3 separate regions of the Homo sapiens genome follow, and regions 1 and 2 are each linked to region 3. The links come from fine-mapping of genetic effects on gene expression. A gene starts in region 3. Each other region holds a variant in brackets. All regions are shown on one strand. Distances are from middle to middle.

Region 1 (5,977 bases), 40 kb before region 3:
TTTTCTCTTACCTAAAAGGACACTTAAATCTCATTTTCTTCAATAATTACAATTTTCTATAAAATGAGAATAATACCGGCCAGGCGCAGTGGCTCACGCCTATAATCCCAACACTTTGGGAGCCCGAGGCAGGCAGATCACATGAGGTCAGGAGTTTGAGACCAGCCTGGCCAACATGGTGAAACCCTGTCTCTACTAAAAATACAAAAATTAGCCAGGCGTGGTGGGTGCCTGTTGTCCCAATTACTCAGGAGGCTGAGGCAGCAGAATCAATTGACCACAGGAATACAATCGCGCCATTGCACTTTAGCCTGGGCGACAGAGTGAGACTCCCTCTCAAAAAAAAAAAAAAAAAAAGAGGCAGCAGGGAATAATACCACCCATGGTGATTATTTCACTGAGTTGTGGTGAAAACAGATGAGATCTAATGAGACGATGATCCGAGGGTGACTGGCCACGAAGCACAAACATAAAGCATCATGGAACATTGGAGTTGGTGGAAGTCTTTTCCAAGCAGCAAAGTGAGGGCCCTTGAGAAGTGACGTGATTTGGTGGAAGCCGTTCCGCAAGTCTTTGGAGGCAACATGACTGGAATCCAGCCTCTTTCCACTAAGCCATCCTGCCACATCCTCAGCTGTTTTCAATGGTGCATCTCATGAGAACACCACTTTGTTATTTTGAACTTTCCAGGAGAAAAAGCACAAAGTACAGCTCAAAGTAAAGTTTTCCAGCAGATGGGCCTGAACGAGTTAGAGGTCCACTTCATGGAAGATGGACGCAACATCTATGACACGCGTGGAACCGGGGGCACACTACTTTACCTCTCTGTGCTTTAGTTTCCTTAACTACCTCATCGGGTTGGAGTTAAGAGGACTAAATGAGTGAATGTGTTCGGGGAGAGGTAGCATAGAGCCTGGCACATAGTACATGCAAGATTAATGCCATTATTATTTATTATTAGCGTTATTATTTATTTACACACAGAAGTTGCACACCTGCCTACTGACTGGAAAAGAAAAAGGCCACAGATGGAAATTAGAAAGTTGTAGCTATCATTAGGTCTGTGCCAAGGCATTTGGGATATATCACTAAGGCATCCACCGAGGTGGGGGTGGAGGGGAGCCAGAGTGCCTGGAGGAGTTACTATTCCTAATACTCCTATTTTCTCCCAAGAAGAACTCACGGTCTTTGGGCCTAGCCCCTGGCTTATGACTGCTGGCGGGTCGGTGTGCTCAATGGCTGCATGGCCACCACAGCATTTCCACCCAACTCCAGCAGAGCCCCGTAGGCATTGTGGAGGTGCTTGGGGAGTCTCCTAGGCTTGAATAGGAATGAGCCTTGGAAGGTGCAGAGCTTCGTGGCTCAGCAGAAGATGGTGATGAGGGAGATCTGACCTGAACTTCCCCAGGGCAGCCTGGGAGAGCTTCCAGAGGCACAGGCTGAAAATCGTGAGTCCTCCTGAAACTTCCTTTCACTGCTCTTGCTCCACACTCTGCATCAGCCCCACCCACCGAGGGCTGACCCCCGACTCTTCCAGACCTGTTTCCCATTTCTCCTCTGCTGGGGCCCCCCAGTAGCCTGCTGGTATGCTCATGTCTGTGGCTCATGTTGCTGGCTCCTGCTGCTGCCTCCTACCCTGCTGGAGACAGGCAACACTGGGGCCAGCTCGTATGCCACTTCCATGAAGCCTTCCCTGATCCCTCCTGCTGGGCCCTCTCTTCCCCTCTCCCTCCAGCTTGTGGTTCTGCTCTTTGTGGCCCTCACATGTGCACTTGTGCTATGTATTTCATTGTTTTGAAGCCCTCACAGCCACACAGGGCGTCCTCATTGTGTTCTTCCCCCAGTGCTTCTCAGCCACTCGGGACAGTCCCAGGTGACCAGTCCATTAAAGTCTGAAAACTAATCCACCTGTACCTGGAGGGAGTCTTGGATCCCAAGCAAGGGAGTGAGAATTGGGACATAATATTGAGATACTACCAATGCCAACTTGGGAATCCTTCCTCGTATCTGTCTTGTGTGTTTATAGCTTCAATTTCAAGACAGAAATATCCACCCACCTGTTTTGTGATGCTAAAGAAGTATGCACACTGAATTTTGGGAATAAATCAAAAGCCGAATGCCACTACCTCCTGCTTGCTTGTTTAAAGGTTAGCCTTTAGGATCTCTTAACTTCCACAACCAATAAAACGTGTTTCCTAGTCCTTATTATGGCCAATCATTTCCACATTTTGTTAGAGTCTGCAGATTACCTTGGCACGTTAATCCTGAGTTCTGTCATCCCAGGCAAATACAAATGCTCAGAACAAGGACTTACGATGAAAATGTTAGTGCACTCCATCTTCCAGCTGCCTGACAAGCAGCTTCTACTCAGAATAAGTATAAATTAGCTAATGCTGAAGCTGCAGAAATGTTTAATCCGTATCCTGTGTCTTGAGTGATTCCTCCCTCCTCCCCCTATTCATTCAGATGTTAATTCTAGATCTCTCTGTTGCACTCAGGGTTGAATCTGGTAAAATGCTAGTGGTATGGTACCTGCAGGAAGGCATATATAATTTCTCTATCAGAGTGCTTTTAATGCCTTCTTTCAGTGGGCCTGATACATAAGAAAAGATAAATGCTTATGGGCCCCAAAACTCTTTGGAGTCAACACATGCATGAGAAAGTATAATACCTTTTTAAATTTTAATCATTTTAGCCAAAGAGCGAAATCTGTTTTTACT[A/G]CTTATGAGAGATGGTGCTAAATTAAATACGAGGCAGTGATCTGCAGAAAAAGAAGTCCCCACAAAAACAGTGCTTCCCCATGGGAAGCAAGAAGCACTTTAGGAAGCTTAGAGTGGGGAAGTGATGGGGTGGTGGGCTGGAGGCAGCCTGAATGAAGAGAGGAGGCAGAGACAGAGGCTGAGCGGCAATGGTGGAGCTGCTGTAAGACGATGCTGGGGGCTGGCAGGTGGTCTAAAAAGCCCTTTCCTGGATCCCTGTGGGTGTGAGGGATTAAAGCCTACAGGTAAAGCAACTACAGGCCCCTGCCACACCTCCTCAGGTGCTTAAAGAGTTGCCTCTGTGTTCCCAGTTGTAAATGAGATCATCTTTGGTGATGTCTGGATGATAATAACCACTCTTTATTACACATTTTCTCTGTGCTTTACAGGGAGTAGGTTCTTTAATCCTCCCAACATCCCTTTGCGGTAGGTGCTGTAAGTCATTTTATAGATGAGGAAATTGAGGTCTTAGAGAGGTTAGATCATTTGCCCAAGACCAACAGCTAGTCAGTGGTAGAATTGGGATTTGAGCACAGAGACAGTCTGGCTACAGAGCCTGTGCTTACCGTAACCACCATGCTTTTAAATAGCAATTTTTCCTAATGAAAATTGATAGTGTAATGTCCAGAAGGTTAGAATTTAAAAAATTAAAATAAAACGGTCTCTGTCTCATGGATTCACCAGGGGACCTGGGGGAAATGCCCTTGATCTTGGTTTCCAGTCTATAAAAGAACAATTATGCCATTCTTCACCCACCCATCCTACAGATGTGCTTTGAGGATGAATGAATAGATTGGTCATCAGGGCTTTGAAAACCCAAGATGATTGAAGATGCCTAGTTAAATAATATGAGTAAATGAGTTTCCACATCCCTGCACAAGACTCAGGCCCCCAAACTGGAGCAGCTTTCCAGCAACAGCTGGTTTGAGATTTTCAAAGCAAATTTCACGCACATTCTATGTAAGTCCAAAACCAAAATTTCCTTGTGGAACTTTCTTTTTTTTTTTTGCAGGAAATTCATCTGACGTCTCACTGAAAATCTCTAAGGCAAGCATGGTGCCCTATCAGGGATATGGTTTCCAGCCTTTTGTCTTTTTTTTTTGAGGCGGAGTCTCGCTCTGTCACCCAGGTTGGAGTGCAGTGGTGCGATCTCGGCTCACTTCAACCTCTGCTTCCCGGGTTCAAGCGTTTCTCCTGCCTCAGCCTTCCCAGTAGCTAGGATCATAGGCATGTGCCACCACGACTGGCTATATATATATATATATACACATATATATGTATATTTTGTATTTTTAGTAAAGACAGGGTTTCACCATGTTGGTCAGGCTGGTCTTCAACTTCTGACCTCTTGATCTGCCCCAACCCCTGGCCTCCCAAAGTGCAGGGATTACAGGCATGAGCCACCGTGCCTGGCCCAGCCTTTTGTCTTTAAGAACCAAACATTCTTCTCTTGCTGGCCTTGAAGAGGGAGTTTGGTAAATTGGGTCAGTTAATTCTGCTCCCTTAACCCTATGCTTGTTAGTGGTCTTCATCTCTTCTACTTACTCTATTAGGACCCGCACTGTGGGAGGCTGATTACTGCAGTAGACTCCACACTGATTTCCTTACGATGTGTCTGAAGGGGTGTACAAAAGGGTTAATTTGTATATCATGAAATAAAAAACTTTCATCCTTTATCCAAACCAAAAGGAATGACAACAACCCAAGCAGGTAGTATTCTCATGTATTTTCCCAGGAAAGTTATAAATTCTTGTTGTAATCTGCAATGCAAGTAGCATTTTTAAAGATTTCAAGAGACATAAATGGTCTTGAAATGTAGTCATAAGGGGAAGGTATTTTGGAAAAAATAACCTGAGAAATCGTCTCATGTGAACATAATCACACACACACACACACACACACACACACATTTGTAGTCTTTGATATAGTAATCTTGTTTCTGAGAATTTATGCTTAAGAAATTATCTAAAATCAGGAAATCAAGAGTTCATTGCATAGTTGTTTATAACAGCAAAACATTTGAAACAGTCAACATGTCCCAGCTACACACATGCACGTACACATGCACATATGTATATCCCAGAATATGCGTTAAAAATTAAAATTATAAAAGCCATGTAGTAACATAAAAATGCTTATTATACAAAGAAAAAAGCCAGATATATAATCATGACACCATACCAGTTACACTGTATATTTTTTATTTCTAGCTTTTTTTTTTTGAGATGGAGTTTCGCTCTTGTTGCCCAGGCTGGAGTGCAATGGCACGATCTTGGCTCACCGCAAACTCCGCCTCCCGGGTTCAAGCAATTCTCCTGCCTCAACCTCCCGAGTAGCTGGGATTACAGGCATGCACCACCATGCCTGGCTAATTTTGTATTTTTAGTAGAGAAGGGATTACTCCATGTTGCTCAGGCTGGTCTTGAACTCCTGACCTCAGGTGATCCTCCCGCCTCGGCCTCCTAAAGTGTTGGGATTACAGGCATGAGCCACGGCACCTGGCCTATTTCTAGAATTTCTATTCAATTTGTTTTCTACTCTGCCTCTTCATTTTTCATACTGTTCTGTTTATTCCTTATGGTCACTGTTTCTTTCACTATTTTCTTAGTACCTTAAACATACCTCTCTAAATACTTTTTTTCCAGGTTGTTCTCAGGGTAGATTCTGTTTGTTGTGATGTTCATTTCCATGGGTCCTCTATAAAATTTTCCTGTGAGCTCCTCGTCTTCTCCAAGGGTTGTTATCTGTAGGACTCCTCTATTCCCTGGCCTGGGAGGTGGCGATGTTGCTTTGCCTTTGCAAAACCCTAGTAATTTTAACACTCTTAGGCACATAGTGCATTTCTGTACCACCTTCCTGGAATGGCTGACTGAGGCTGAATTGAGTATGAATCCTGAATTTGTTGAAGGAGCTCACTTCCCTAGCAAGGGCCTAATTGCATGCCTGTTGCACCTTTGGGTTCAGCTCTCACAAACCATTAGATCCCGCTTGCTTTCTGGTACCTAAACTTCCTTTCCTGCCCTCAAACTCTATTGTGCATTAAAAAATAACTTATCGCCAGGGTGGTGGCTCTCGCCTGTAATCCCAGCTACTCAGGAGGCCAAGGTACAAGAATCGCTTGAGCCCAGGAGGCAGAGGTTGCAGTGAGCCAAGATGGCACCACTGCACTCCAGCCTGGGCAACAGTGTAAGACTGTCTCAAAACAAGCAAATAAAACC
Region 2 (5,977 bases), 31 kb after region 3:
TCTGACAGTTGACGTTGGGGAATGGTTGCTGGCTAGAGAGCCTCAGTTCTTCTCCATGTGGCCTCTCATCTTCCACTAGGCCAGACTGCCTTCCTTGCATTGGAGTCTCAGGGCAGCTTTCCAAATGAACAAAGGCAGAAGCTGCCAGGCCTGTTAGGCCTAAGCTTCAGGACGCTTAGGTCATGTCTGCTGCATTGTATTTGTCAAAACAAGTCACAAGTCCAGCCCAGATCCAAGAGGGTGGAAAAACGAACTCCACTCCTCCAAGGGAGAAGCAGCAAGGTCACACTGCAAAGGAGCATACAAACTGGGATGGGAGGAATTTATGAGCATAAAACAAACTAGCACACTAACATATGAAGGCCTGTGGAATTTGTTCTCTGTCAAGGTCTGTCCCAATCTGACCTGTGTTTTAGGATGATAACTCTGGTGATTTGTGGATATGAGTTAAAAAGGTCAGAGATTAGAAATAGGAAGCCCAGCAGGGAGTACATTTCAGTAGGCTAGGCAAGAAGGAAGAGGGCATTGTTCATAGGCTAGGGATGGGGAGTGCATATGGAGAAATGGACATGAGATATTTCTGAAGTAGAATTAGAGAGAGGCCAGTGTTTACTATATGCTCTGTACCAGCATAGGTGATATAGGGAGATGTGAGTAAGATATTAGTAAGAGCCAGCCAACAAATAGATACTCAAATATTTGGTTAATGAGGAACTTAAAATCTTTTTTGGAAAAAAGGAAAACCTAACAACAACAAAAAAAGATTCTAGTGAACTACACGTTTACTTCATCTGATTACAGAACCTCTCTTTCTCGTTTTTTTATTTTTTTGAGAAGCAGTCTTGCTTTGCTGCCCAGGCTGGAGTGCAGTGGCACGATCTCAGCTCACTGCAACCTCTGCCTCCTGGGTTCAAGTGATTCTTGTGCCTCAGCCTCCTGAGTAGCTGGGACTACAGGCATGCACAACCGTGCTTGGCTAATTTTTGTATTTTTAGTAGAGACAGGGTTTCAACATGTTGGCCAGGCTGGTCTCGAACTCCTGACCTCAAGTGATCTGCCCACCTTGGCCTCCCAAAGTGCTGGGATTATAGGAGTGAGCCACAGCACCCGGCCACTTTCCCTCTTCTGAACACACATTATACTTACCATCTGTCCTGTTCTCTGCACATGTAATAACATACTGCCTTCTACTGTTTTGTTTTGTTTTTTTGAGACAGAGTCTCTCTCTGTTGCTCAGGCTGGAGTGCAGTGGCGCAACCCTTGGCTCACTGTAGCCTCAACCTCCTGGCTCAGGCCATCCTCTTTTCTCAGCCACCTGAGTAGCTTGGGTTCCAGATGTGCTCCACCACACCTGGCTAATGTTTTGTAGAGACAGGGTCTCGCTTTGTTGCCCAGTCTTGTCTTGAACCCCTGAGCTCAAGCAATCCTCCCACCTTGGCCTCCTAAATTGCTGTGAGTAGAGACATGAGCCACTGTGCTGGCCTTCTATTATTATTTAACCTTTTTATTTTTGTTAACCTTATTTTTCTTGCTAGATTTTAGATCTGTGAAAGGTCTAATGATGTGAGGCCACTCAGGAAATGCACAGAATAAGCTCTGTGCCGTATTAGAAGGAAACAAATTGGATGGGGACTCTTGTCAGAGAAAACACCAAAGAGATTAGAGTTGCAGTGGAATAATTCTTAAAAACACACGTAAGACAGCAAGTGTTCACCAAGAAGACTGGTGGCTACCAAATGCTTGCTCCCTTTTCCGTAGCAGAAAGTTGTTGTTGGGAAGTGGCTCTGCAGTCAAGGGCCATCTTCCCCAGCCCCACCATTCCTCTCCATGGAGTCATGTGATTCATTCTCAGCAAAGGAAAGTGAGTGGGAATAGTGGAGGCCACATCTGGGCCACCATGGTTAAAACGCAGATTTGTCTTCTCTATTCTCACTTTCCTTTCTGCCAGCTGGACATAGAGGATGCAGAGGGCCTGGAGGATAATGGATCATGGGTGAAAGAAGTTTGGGTGTCTGAATTACTGCATGGTGGAAAAACTCCCCCCAACAGGGAACTCTGGCTTTGGGCTGCTCTTTGAGAGAGACATAAATTCATTGTGTTCAGCCACTGAAATGTGGGAGGATTATTTGTTACAGCAGTGTATTAGTCAGGGTTCTCCAGACAGATAGGACCAATTGGTTATGTATACGTATAGAAAGAGATTCGTTGAGATTTATTGTAAGGGATTGGCTCATACAATTATGAAGGCTGGCAAGTTCAAAATCTGCAAGGTAATTAGCCAGGCATAGTGGCATGTGCCTGTAGTCCCAGCTACTTGAGAGGCTGCGGCAGGAGGATCACTTGATCCCAGGAGGTCAAGGCAGCTGTGATCATGCCACTGGACTTCAGCCTGGATGACAGAGTGAGATTCTGTCTCAACAA[T/TCAAA]CAAACAAACAAACAAAAATTTGCAAGGTAGGCCAGCAGGCTGAAGACCCAGGGAGGGCTGATATACAGTTCAAGTCCAAAGACCATGTGCTAGTAGAATTTCCTCTTGCTAGGGGAGGTGAGACCTTTGTTCTATTCACCCCTTCCACTGATTAGATGAGACCCACCCACACCATGGCAGGCAATCTACTTTACTCAAAGTTGACAGATTTAAATTCTAATCTAATTCAAAAGCACCATCACAAAAACATCCAGAATAATGTTTCACCACTATCTGGGCACCGTGGCCCAGCCAATTAACCACCCCAAGCAGCTAACACTTCCTTTATTTGCACCAAGATGTGTTGCGACTAGTAGCCAACTCATGCAGAAATGTCATATTTCTCACTCCTCTGTCTTCACTTAGAGGCTGTTCCTACCCTGGTAAAGAAAGGCACATTATTTTCAAGGTATAGTGAATACCTCAAACTTTCCACCACGATATAATGACTTGTTTGCAAAAGCCCTGGAGAACAGAGCATAATCATGACATTGCAATCCATTATGTCTGCATAGGAAAGGATATGGTCACCTGGGTTTTATTAAACAATTTCTGTCTCTGCCTAGAATCAGAATCAGGCACAGCGAAGATTACCACCAAGGAGCCTGCCCCACGTTTCCATTTTCAACAGAAATAAATGATGGGTTATTCTTGTAGTTGAGTGCCCTTTAGAGTGAGGTCGCCTGACTTCTGTTGTGTTCACTGTTGTGCCTCTCATGTCTTGATTCTTATGATGAAGTTTATAAGCAGGGTAGAACAACAGGACTGAAAAGAGGATAGATATAAACCAGTACCTTAGGGAACAACTAGTAAAATTAGCTTCCTTACCTTTGGCAGCAAAAATGGGCACTCAAAAGCTAAGCATCTCCCCTGCCCCTTGCCATGTTTTATAAGAAGTGGAGGGGAATTAGTATTATTTCTTGGCTCTAACAATAAAACTAAAAAGTTTACTACAACCAGCATTCTGATCAATGCCCTGTAATAATCTAGGTAACTTACTACCCTCTTTATGAAGCCTACCCTTACCACTCTAGAACTCTTTATTTCTTTTCTTTTCTTTTCTTTTTTGAGATGGAGTCTTGCTCTGTCACCCAGGCTAGAGTGCAATGGCACAATTTCAGCTCACTGCAACCTCCGCCTCCCAGGTTCAAGTGATTCTCCTGCCTCAGCCTCCTGAGTAGCTGGGATTACAGGCACCTGCTACCACGCCCGGCTAATTTTTGTATTTTTAGTACAGACAGGGTTTCACCATGTTGGTCAGGCTGGTCTCGAACTCCTGACCTCAGGTGATCCAGCCTCCTCAGTCCCCAAAGTGTTGGGATTACAGGCTTGAGCTACCATGCCCGGCCAGGACTCTATTTCACAGGCATTTATTCACAAATATCAGTTGAGCATCTACTATATAGTGCTATATAGCATTACATCAAGAATTGTAAAGAACTCGAAAAAGCACAAGTTGTGCTCTCATACATCTCAATAAACTCAAGATATAATATCCACGTACACTAACTTTGTGTGTGTGAGAGTGTGATGCTTAAAGGATAATGCTATTCTGCTTTTATTTATTTTTTTAATTTTTTGAGTCACTGTGTTGCCCAAGTTGGAGTGCAGTGGTGCAGTCACCACTCACTGCAGCCTGGACCTCCTGGGCTAGGTGATCCTCCTGCTTCTGCCTCCTGAGTAGCTGGGACCACAGGCACACACCACCACATCCAGCTAATTTTTTAAATTATTTGTATCCATGGTGTCTCTCTATGTTGTTCAGGCTGGTCTCAAACTCCTGGGCTCAAGCAATCCTCCCACCTCAGTGCTGGGATTACAGGTGTGAGCCACTGCACCTGCCCAAGTCCAGGAGGAACTTTAACCCTCTGTGTTCCTCTTGGACTTTCCTTGTCTAGGATATCTGAACACTGTCTATGGCCGGTAGAATGGGCTGGTTTTATAGATCCTCTACCTTGAAGGCCAATCTGCCTCTCTGATCTCTTTTTAAAAATCCCTTTTTCCTCTGAATTGTAATGGAATTACATAATCACTACTGAGGGGATCTGGGACAGGGACAAGAGGGGATAGGGAGATCTTCTCATTTGTGGGGGAGAGTGGGAGTGTCCGGCAGCCCAGGGGCCTGTGGGTCTGGTCTACTTCCTGAGAGTCCCTCCCTGATTCTAGAAGGAGGACAGGGCAGACATGGCATGAGGAGGAAGCCTGTTGACTTGTTGACTTGCAAAGAATCTTAGCAAGGTGCCAGAGTGAATGCACCCGGACACGGGGAAGCCCACCATGTGGACATAGCTTGGTTGCTGCATGTGTAACTAGAAAAAATACAGTTGTCTGTTGCCGGCTTCCTGCTTCTCCCTTTTTTCCCCATCACTTGTTCTTGAAGCTAGTGGGAGTTGGATTCTTCCTGTTTGACCGTGTTGGAGTGATATCCTAGCCTTCAGCTCTGTGGCCTGCAAGCCCCTCAGGCCTCTCTCATACCTTAAAGAGGAGAGATGGGGTCAGGAAGAGACTTCCTACTCTCACTATATAGTGCAGCTCTTGATTTATTTATCACATTGAAATGTTTGTTTGTTTGTTTGTTTATTTATTTCAGACAGAGTCTCACTCTGTCACCCAGGCTGAAGTGCAGTGGCGCCGTCTTGGCTCACTGCAACCTCCGCCTCCCGGGCTCAAGCAATTCTCCTGCCTCAGCCTCCAGAGTAACTGGGATCACAGGCCTGTGCCACCACGCCTGGCTAATTTTTCTTTTTTTTTTTTTTTTTTTTTTTTTTTTTTTTTTTTTTAGGGGAGACAGGATTTCACCATCTTGGCCATATGGTCTCAAACTCCTGGGCTCAAGCCATCTGCCTTCCTTGGCTTCACAAAGTGCTGGTTCACAGGAGTGAGCCACCACGCCTGGCCTGGATTGAAAACTTTAGACTGAGGTTTAGGTACTTTTGTTGGGTTCAACCTTCAGTAATTCCTCTAGGCTAGGGTTCAATCCCAGTAACCAAGCTCACCAGTCCTTGCTCCCAAATATAACTGCTACTTTTCTCTTTTTTTTTTCAAGCTGAACCTCAAAAAGTTAGCCTGGCGAGGGGAGGATGATGAGATTTCCCCTGTTGTCACATAAACAAGGAAGTAAAGGGGGCCCCTTGTGCTCTCAGAACTCCAAGCATGAAACGATGTGAGTCTAAGCATTTAAATCACTTATCTGGGATGAAGCATAAAAAGCTTGATTTTTTTTTTTTTAAACCAATTAGGTTTTAGCCTCCATGATACATTTTGGGGCCTGTGGTTATCACTGCAATTACACTTCAATTCATGCATTGGATACTTTGAAAAGGTTTAATAAACAATAAGAATATCAGCTGCCATTTATATTTATGCTTCTAGCACTGTCCCAGGGGCTTTAATATGGTACCTATAACCCTTCCAATTATTCTCATTTTAGAGTAGAGATAACTAAGACACAGGGAGGTGAAAAAAATAAGCAAACAAAAAAACCTGCCCAAGGACACACGACAGGTCAGAGGTTAA
Region 3 (5,977 bases):
TACTAAATAATACAAACATTAGCCGGGCATGGTGGCAGGCACCTGTAATCCCAGCTACTCGGGGCGCTGAGGCAGGAGAATCACTTGAACCTGGGAGGCGAAGGTTGCAGTGAGCTGAGATCGCGCCACTGCACTCCAGCCTGGGCGACAGAGCAAGACTCCGTCTCAAAAAAGAAAGAAAAAAAAATGGGGGGAAGGCGACAGACAGCAGAGTTTGTGTAGAACATCCCTAAGTACTTCACTCAACTAAGACATCGCTTTTAGAGTTAAAATTCTTAGAATAGTCCAACTTCTGTGACCTTGAGCAAATCTTTCTGAGCTTCAGTGTACTGATCTGTAAATGATGTTGGATAATCCCAGCAATCCTCCTCACCTTACAGGACTGCTCTGCTGTTAAGATCAAAAGACTTCCTATGAAAGAATACTGTCTGAAAGGACTACAAAAATGAAACGGGTTATTAAAAAATGGGTTTGGTGCTTAAAGGGATAAATCCACAGCTTTCATAACTAACTTTCCAAAGGTTCTAAAAACTGAGGTTTTACCGTTTTTAAATATTTACAATAATTACAGTGATCTAGCCTGTGTATGCATTTCCTTGGATCTGCTCAGTATTAAGCAGGAAAAGGGCAAAAGCTGCTACATTAGTCAGCAAAAAAGAAATTAGCATGGATATTATTAACATCCAAGAAAAGTAAGTCACTTGAAGGGCTGCCAACGTTATCAGTACCTCATTTACAATGCAAAAGGTAGTAGAGACTCAACTGCTGCCAGCCAAGAATCACTGGGGGGAATTACAATGAATGTGCACAACCAGGCCAAAGTATCACATCACATCCAACATTTTGGACATGCCCATTCCTCTGAAGTTTCCTAAAGTTCGGTTTGTAAATCCTGGAAGGAAGGAAACAGTAACTTGTTACAAACTTTTCAGTTGGTGAGGTTTGCACTCAATCATACACAAACCATTCACCTTTCTGCTCTCTAAAAAAATTGTTAGCAAACTGTTGTCTAATACGGGCAACACGTTTGAAAAGGTAAAGGACCTAAACATTTCAACTTTAGATACATAGACTAAAATCAACTCCTTGCTTCAAAGACAGTATGATGTGCAGACTAACAGCGGGAGACAAGAGCCACAACTCTCCCTTGGGGTTTGACAACGGTGCGCTTCATTACCTCTTTACATAATTCGCTTCACACCGCCTACCCCCGCAGCCCCGGGATGTTCCAGCTCTGACAATGCCAGTGCCTTCCACCAGCGGTCGGACGGTGCGGTGGCAATCCTGACATGCTTGGGCTCCCGGGAGGTTAATGGGAATTAAACCACAGGCAGCCCTCCTTTGTGGCGCTTTGGCCAGAACAGCAGAAAGGAGACAATGAGCGTTCTGTGCACAGTTCCGCGCCGATTGGCTGGTCTCTCCCCCCAGAAACCCCTGATGTCATGGGCTTGGAATGCAGGGAGGGAGGAAGGAAGGAGAGGATTTGGGGAGGGGGACGCCTCTCATCTCTTTCCCAGGCCAAAAGTCCTAAAGATAAACCTAACGCATTCTTGGGCTCAGTGGCAAAGCTGAGCGTCACCAAATCCCAATCGCTCCAAACTATAAGCCGCCTCAGCAAACAAGCCCCAAACAAAAGCAACCCACAAAAATAATCCTTTATGTCGTGAAAGTCTAATGTACTTCAAACTTCTCAGTGTTTCATAAAAAGTCTCAAGCCTAAGCAGATATCACTCGCACAGTGGCGCGCTCAGGCTTTGTCTCCATTTCCCGCAAAAGCAACAGCAGAAGCAGCAGCAGCAATCTGCCTCCAAATGCCTCCCAGGCACCGAGATCGGAGACTGTGATGGGTCCCGGACCGGCTTCCGTTCCTCGGGGCCCCTGGGGTCGGCGGGACATTAGGCGGTCTCTCTCCCCGTGGGGAGGCGCGGAGTCCGCCAGCACCCGGGGCCCGGGCAGATGGCGGGGGCTGCGGCAGCGGCTCGCCGGGTCCCTGGCCGCGCAGACGGGCTCCGCCTAAGGGCGAGTGGCCACGCAGGAGCGCCCCCTTCCCGGAGGGCGCGTTCTGCAGTCACCAAACGGCCCCCGAGACCCCCGCAGCCGGAAAGGCTGGCGCCGCGGGACTCCAGGCGCCCGGGAACCCACCGCCAGCCACTAGTCCTGTCCCACGGCGCGGGAACAAAGCCAGGCGGGTGCCCGGGAGCCGGCCCCGCAAGCCCGGGGACTGGACGCGACCGGGACAGGCAGAGACGCTCGCGCCGCCTCGACGGCCCCTCTCCAGGAAAACGGTGAGCCACAGCGCGAAGAGCAAACGAAGCACGGCCCAGCGCCAGGCCAGCCCAAGGGTGCCCCGGGGGCCCCCGCGCCCGCCCGAGCCAGGCGTACCTTGTTCTTGACTTCGGCCGAGAGCCCATAGGAAGGGCCCTTGTTGAAGTGGGTCATGGTGGTTCGGGCGGCGGGAAGAGACAGCGCTGGGGTCCGGGGTCTCTCGCACTTCGCTTCCCCGCTCCTGGCCCCGAGGAGTGGCCGCCGCGGGGGATGCTCGAACTCCCTCCTCTGGGAGGCGCAGGAGACGGCCGCGGGGCGCGGGCGGTGCCTGGGCGACTGGGTCCAACTGGGTGCTACAGAGCCTCGAGCTCCGCTGCGAAGCACCCGGCTGCCTCGCTCGCCGCCCGCACCTCGGTTCCCCACAGGCCGCCCCCGCCTCCGCCTGGGCCTTCGAGGATTGGCCGCCGGGCCCGACCAATGGAGGGCCGCCTCCTCCCGCCTCTGCGCCGAGGGGCGGTGCGGCCAATTGAAGGGCCGCGGGGGCCGCTTTCCCTCCCGCTCCCTCCCCGCGAGGTCCCCGGCCCCCGCCCCAGCCCTCACGCCACCGGGGCCGGCGGCTAGGCGGCCCCGCCCCCGGGCTAGGCAGGGCGCCTGGGGGCTTCCCAGCCACAGGCCATTCACGTCAACCTCCAGGCATCCTCCGCGGCGGGCCGGACCGGGCCGGCGGAGGGGAGCGGAAGCCCACCGGGGCTGGCCCGCCGCTGACCCGCCGCCTCCGTCTGCCTCCTCCCGGGCTCTGGGCCCAGCGCGCCCAGATGCCGGGCAGGACCCCTCCGCCCGCTGCTGGAACACCAATAGCAGCGTTGGAGCCTCTGGGCCGGAGGAACTGGGGCCTCCACCGACACCTGCTTCTTCCCTCACCTCGCAGCCTTCCACACCTGTTGATCTGACCTCTGCCCCGCTGCCGCCCAGGAGTAACCTAAGGCTTTTGGCCTGATTCGAGCTCACTCCGTCTAAACCTCTAAATGCGGTGCGAAAAAATCCTGGGGAATGTGCCATGCAAAGCCTGGGCATTTCAAGTGCTTTTCTGGATTCGCATCAACTCCTCTTTACAGGCATCTTTATCCGGAATTCAGCTCGTCCCAAACCCCACGTGGTGTAGCTCTGCTTGTGTTTTTGAATCCCGGGGCCTCTTTGAATCAGAAGCCCTTTGTATAGAGATAAGTATCCTTTAGGCCAGAATCAGCCTCCATTTTTTTCGCAGTCCCATTTCCTACCCGTAATACTTTCTTCTGATTTTAAAGCCATTTGATAGAGAAGGGACAGGGAACAGAACCTTCGCCCCCCGCCTGAGCAGCTGGTAGACTAGATATCTTCCAAACATTATCTCATTTACTTCCCTGGAGTTACAAATAGGTAGATTTCATGTCCGTTGAGGGGTGAGAAAGCTGAAACTTTGAGACTTAAGAATCCTGGCCGAGGTCAGCCTCCTCCGAAGCTTCATCTCTTGCCACCACTTTCTGGTGCACACCTAGGACAGATTTCAATCCCTGAGATCCCAGGATGAAACCTATGTTTGCCAAATACCAGCTACTGTGCCAGAAGAGATCATGGAACCAGGTGTGGAAAGCTGCTTGAGAAGAGGAGCCAAAACATCATAGTTGAACCGTCCTGGAATAGAAGTGAGTAAGGTGAACCAGGTGTGGTGGCTCATGCCTGTAATCCTAGCACTTTGGGAGACCGAGGTGGGAGGATTGCTTGAGGCCTGGAGTTCAGGAACATCCTGGGCAACATAGCAAGATCCTGTCTCTACAAAAAATCCAAAGTTTTTTTAAATTAAAAAAAAAAAGTGAGTAAGGCAGCTTGAACCGGAAATGCACAAAACTGCTATCCAGTTTGCAAGGCTTTTCCCAATGACTTTGAGGGATGGAACCTGAAGGAAGCGGGAGGAGGCAAATAGGGAGGAAAGTGAAATGATTTATAAATGACTTGCTAATTTTGTCCAAAGGGAGTAATGATAATTAGGGCATTCTTCCCACACGAAGATGACACAATTGACCCAATATCATTGAGGCTAACAGTTTGGGCTGTTTTTCCAGTAGTATGACAGTGACGGTGTGTCAACCGCAGGACCTCACCCACATTTCTTTGGGACCTAGGAGTGTGGGAAATAGCAGCCAGATTTGAGGTACAAATCATGGTGTCCAGCCTGCAAAGCCTTTTTGCAGCAATCTAAGCCTGACTGCTCCTGTTGTATGCTCAAAGTCATTTTAATCTACTTTAGCTTATTGTAAAATGTTCAAGAATTGTATTTTGTCTTGAAAACCATGAATTTTATTGTTTAGGGGGAGTTATTTTTTAAGGAGTGCAGGATTTCAGTTTTGGATGATGAAAAAGTTTTGAAGATGGGTAGTGACAGTGGTCACACAACATTGTAAATGTACTTAATGCCATTGTACACTTACGTGACTTTAAAGTAAACATGAAATTTTCTACATTTGTTTGTTTGATCAACTGTTATCCTCCCTAAGGTACTTGAAGTTCTTTCTGACATTGCCACTGGAACTTACTATTTAAATATTGTTGGTCCTCTTGGATTCCATCAGTACTCCAGAGACTTCCTTCGTTTCTAATTTAACTCATTGTGTAAGAATACGTAATGCTGTTGTTAGCACTAGGGAATGTATCTGAGTCTCATGCACCAAAGTGTGTTAGCAGCAGCAAATCTGTATGGGTCTGCAGCAACCTCAATTCTTGCCTCCTCCAAAGAAAGAATTCTACCGAGAGGCATAAGGCAGAGGGAGAGGCCAAGGCACGTTTTAGAGCAGGAGTGAAAGTTAGAGCAAGAATGAAACGAAGTAATGTACACTTGGAAGAGGGCCAGGCGGGCAACTTGAGAGATTCAAGTGCGCTGCTTGACCTTTGACTTGGGGTTTTATACATTGGCATGCTTCCAGGGGGTTGTGTCCCTTTTCCCCTGATTCTTCCCTTGAGGTGGGCTGTCTGCATGTGCAGTGGCCTGCCAGCACTTGGGAGGGACCACATGCTCAGTGTGTTAACTGAGGTTGTACGCATGCTCACTTGAGGCATTCTTCGCTTACTAGTCAAGTGTTCCTAGAAGAAGGTCATATATGAGTACCAGTTAAATGCCACCATTTTGCCTCTTAGTTCACACCTGTGAGCCCACTCAGCCAACTCCTAAGATCCTATCCAGAAGCTGCTGATCACCAGTTGTAGGTATTTTCTAGCCATTGGGAGACTGCCTTTCCCTGGTGCCGGCTGTGACCAGTTATTATTTTAGAGAGACAGTTTAACAACTGCCTGACCACCTGATGGTTGCGTGACATTCCTGGTGGGAGCGGGGAGCCCTCTCCTGCTCTGCTTGTGTCTGACTACCTACTGTGGCACTATAGAATCAAATGAGAAAAACTTAAAATTTGGGACAATTTTAACAGCTTTATTGAAGTATATTGATATAACAAAGTATATTTAAAGTGTTCAGTTTGATACACACATATACACATAGATACACCTATTTAAAAACCCATCACCACAACAGACAAAGGACATATTCATCATACCCAAAAGTTTCCTCATGTAGCCCCTCCCTCCCAGTCTTCCTTACCTCTCCACCCCACCAGGCAACCCCTGATATGCTTTATGTAACTATACATTAATTTGTATTTCCTAGAATTTTATATAATTGGAATCA

Direction of the effects. Positions count from the first base shown, and alleles are read on the strand shown. Sizes are in standard deviations (SD) of each study's normalised expression.
In carriers of allele G in region 1, the expression in cerebral cortex of the gene that starts at base 2,655 in region 3 tends to be higher than with A alone (small effect, 0.14 SD a copy in GTEx).
In carriers of allele TCAAA in region 2, the expression in ileum of the gene that starts at base 2,655 in region 3 tends to be lower than with T alone (moderate effect, 0.58 SD a copy in CEDAR).

Evidence for each region. PIP is the estimated chance that this variant, and not a neighbour inherited with it, causes the effect. A credible set is the group of variants that fine-mapping cannot tell apart.
Region 1: its variant is the best candidate, but not a certain one, in a credible set for the expression of CNN3 in cerebral cortex (GTEx, PIP 0.70).
Region 2: its variant is the best candidate, but not a certain one, in a credible set for the expression of CNN3 in ileum (CEDAR, PIP 0.89).

What each region holds. Positions count from the first base shown.
Region 1 is chr1:94,884,887-94,890,863 of GRCh38, forward strand. All of the region lies in intron 12 of SLC44A3 (solute carrier family 44 member 3), which reads left to right. Among named protein-coding and RNA genes, the nearest start is that of CNN3-DT, 38 kb to the right of the region's middle. RefSeq lists an enhancer at 1-267. The variant A/G (reference allele first, on the strand shown) is at 2,721.
Region 2 is chr1:94,955,810-94,961,786 of GRCh38, forward strand. All of the region lies in intron 2 of CNN3-DT (CNN3 divergent transcript), which reads left to right. Among named protein-coding and RNA genes, the nearest start is that of CNN3, 32 kb to the left of the region's middle. The variant T/TCAAA (reference allele first, on the strand shown) is at 2,422.
Region 3 is chr1:94,924,456-94,930,432 of GRCh38, forward strand. It overlaps CNN3 (calponin 3), which reads right to left and starts at 2,655. Exons shown (of 7, transcript NM_001839.5): 1 at 2,383-2,655. The coding sequence starts at 2,439. CNN3-DT (CNN3 divergent transcript) reads left to right here and starts at 1,905. Exons shown (of 3, transcript NR_168377.1): 1 at 1,905-2,285. RefSeq lists silencers at 1,763-2,192, 2,293-3,172.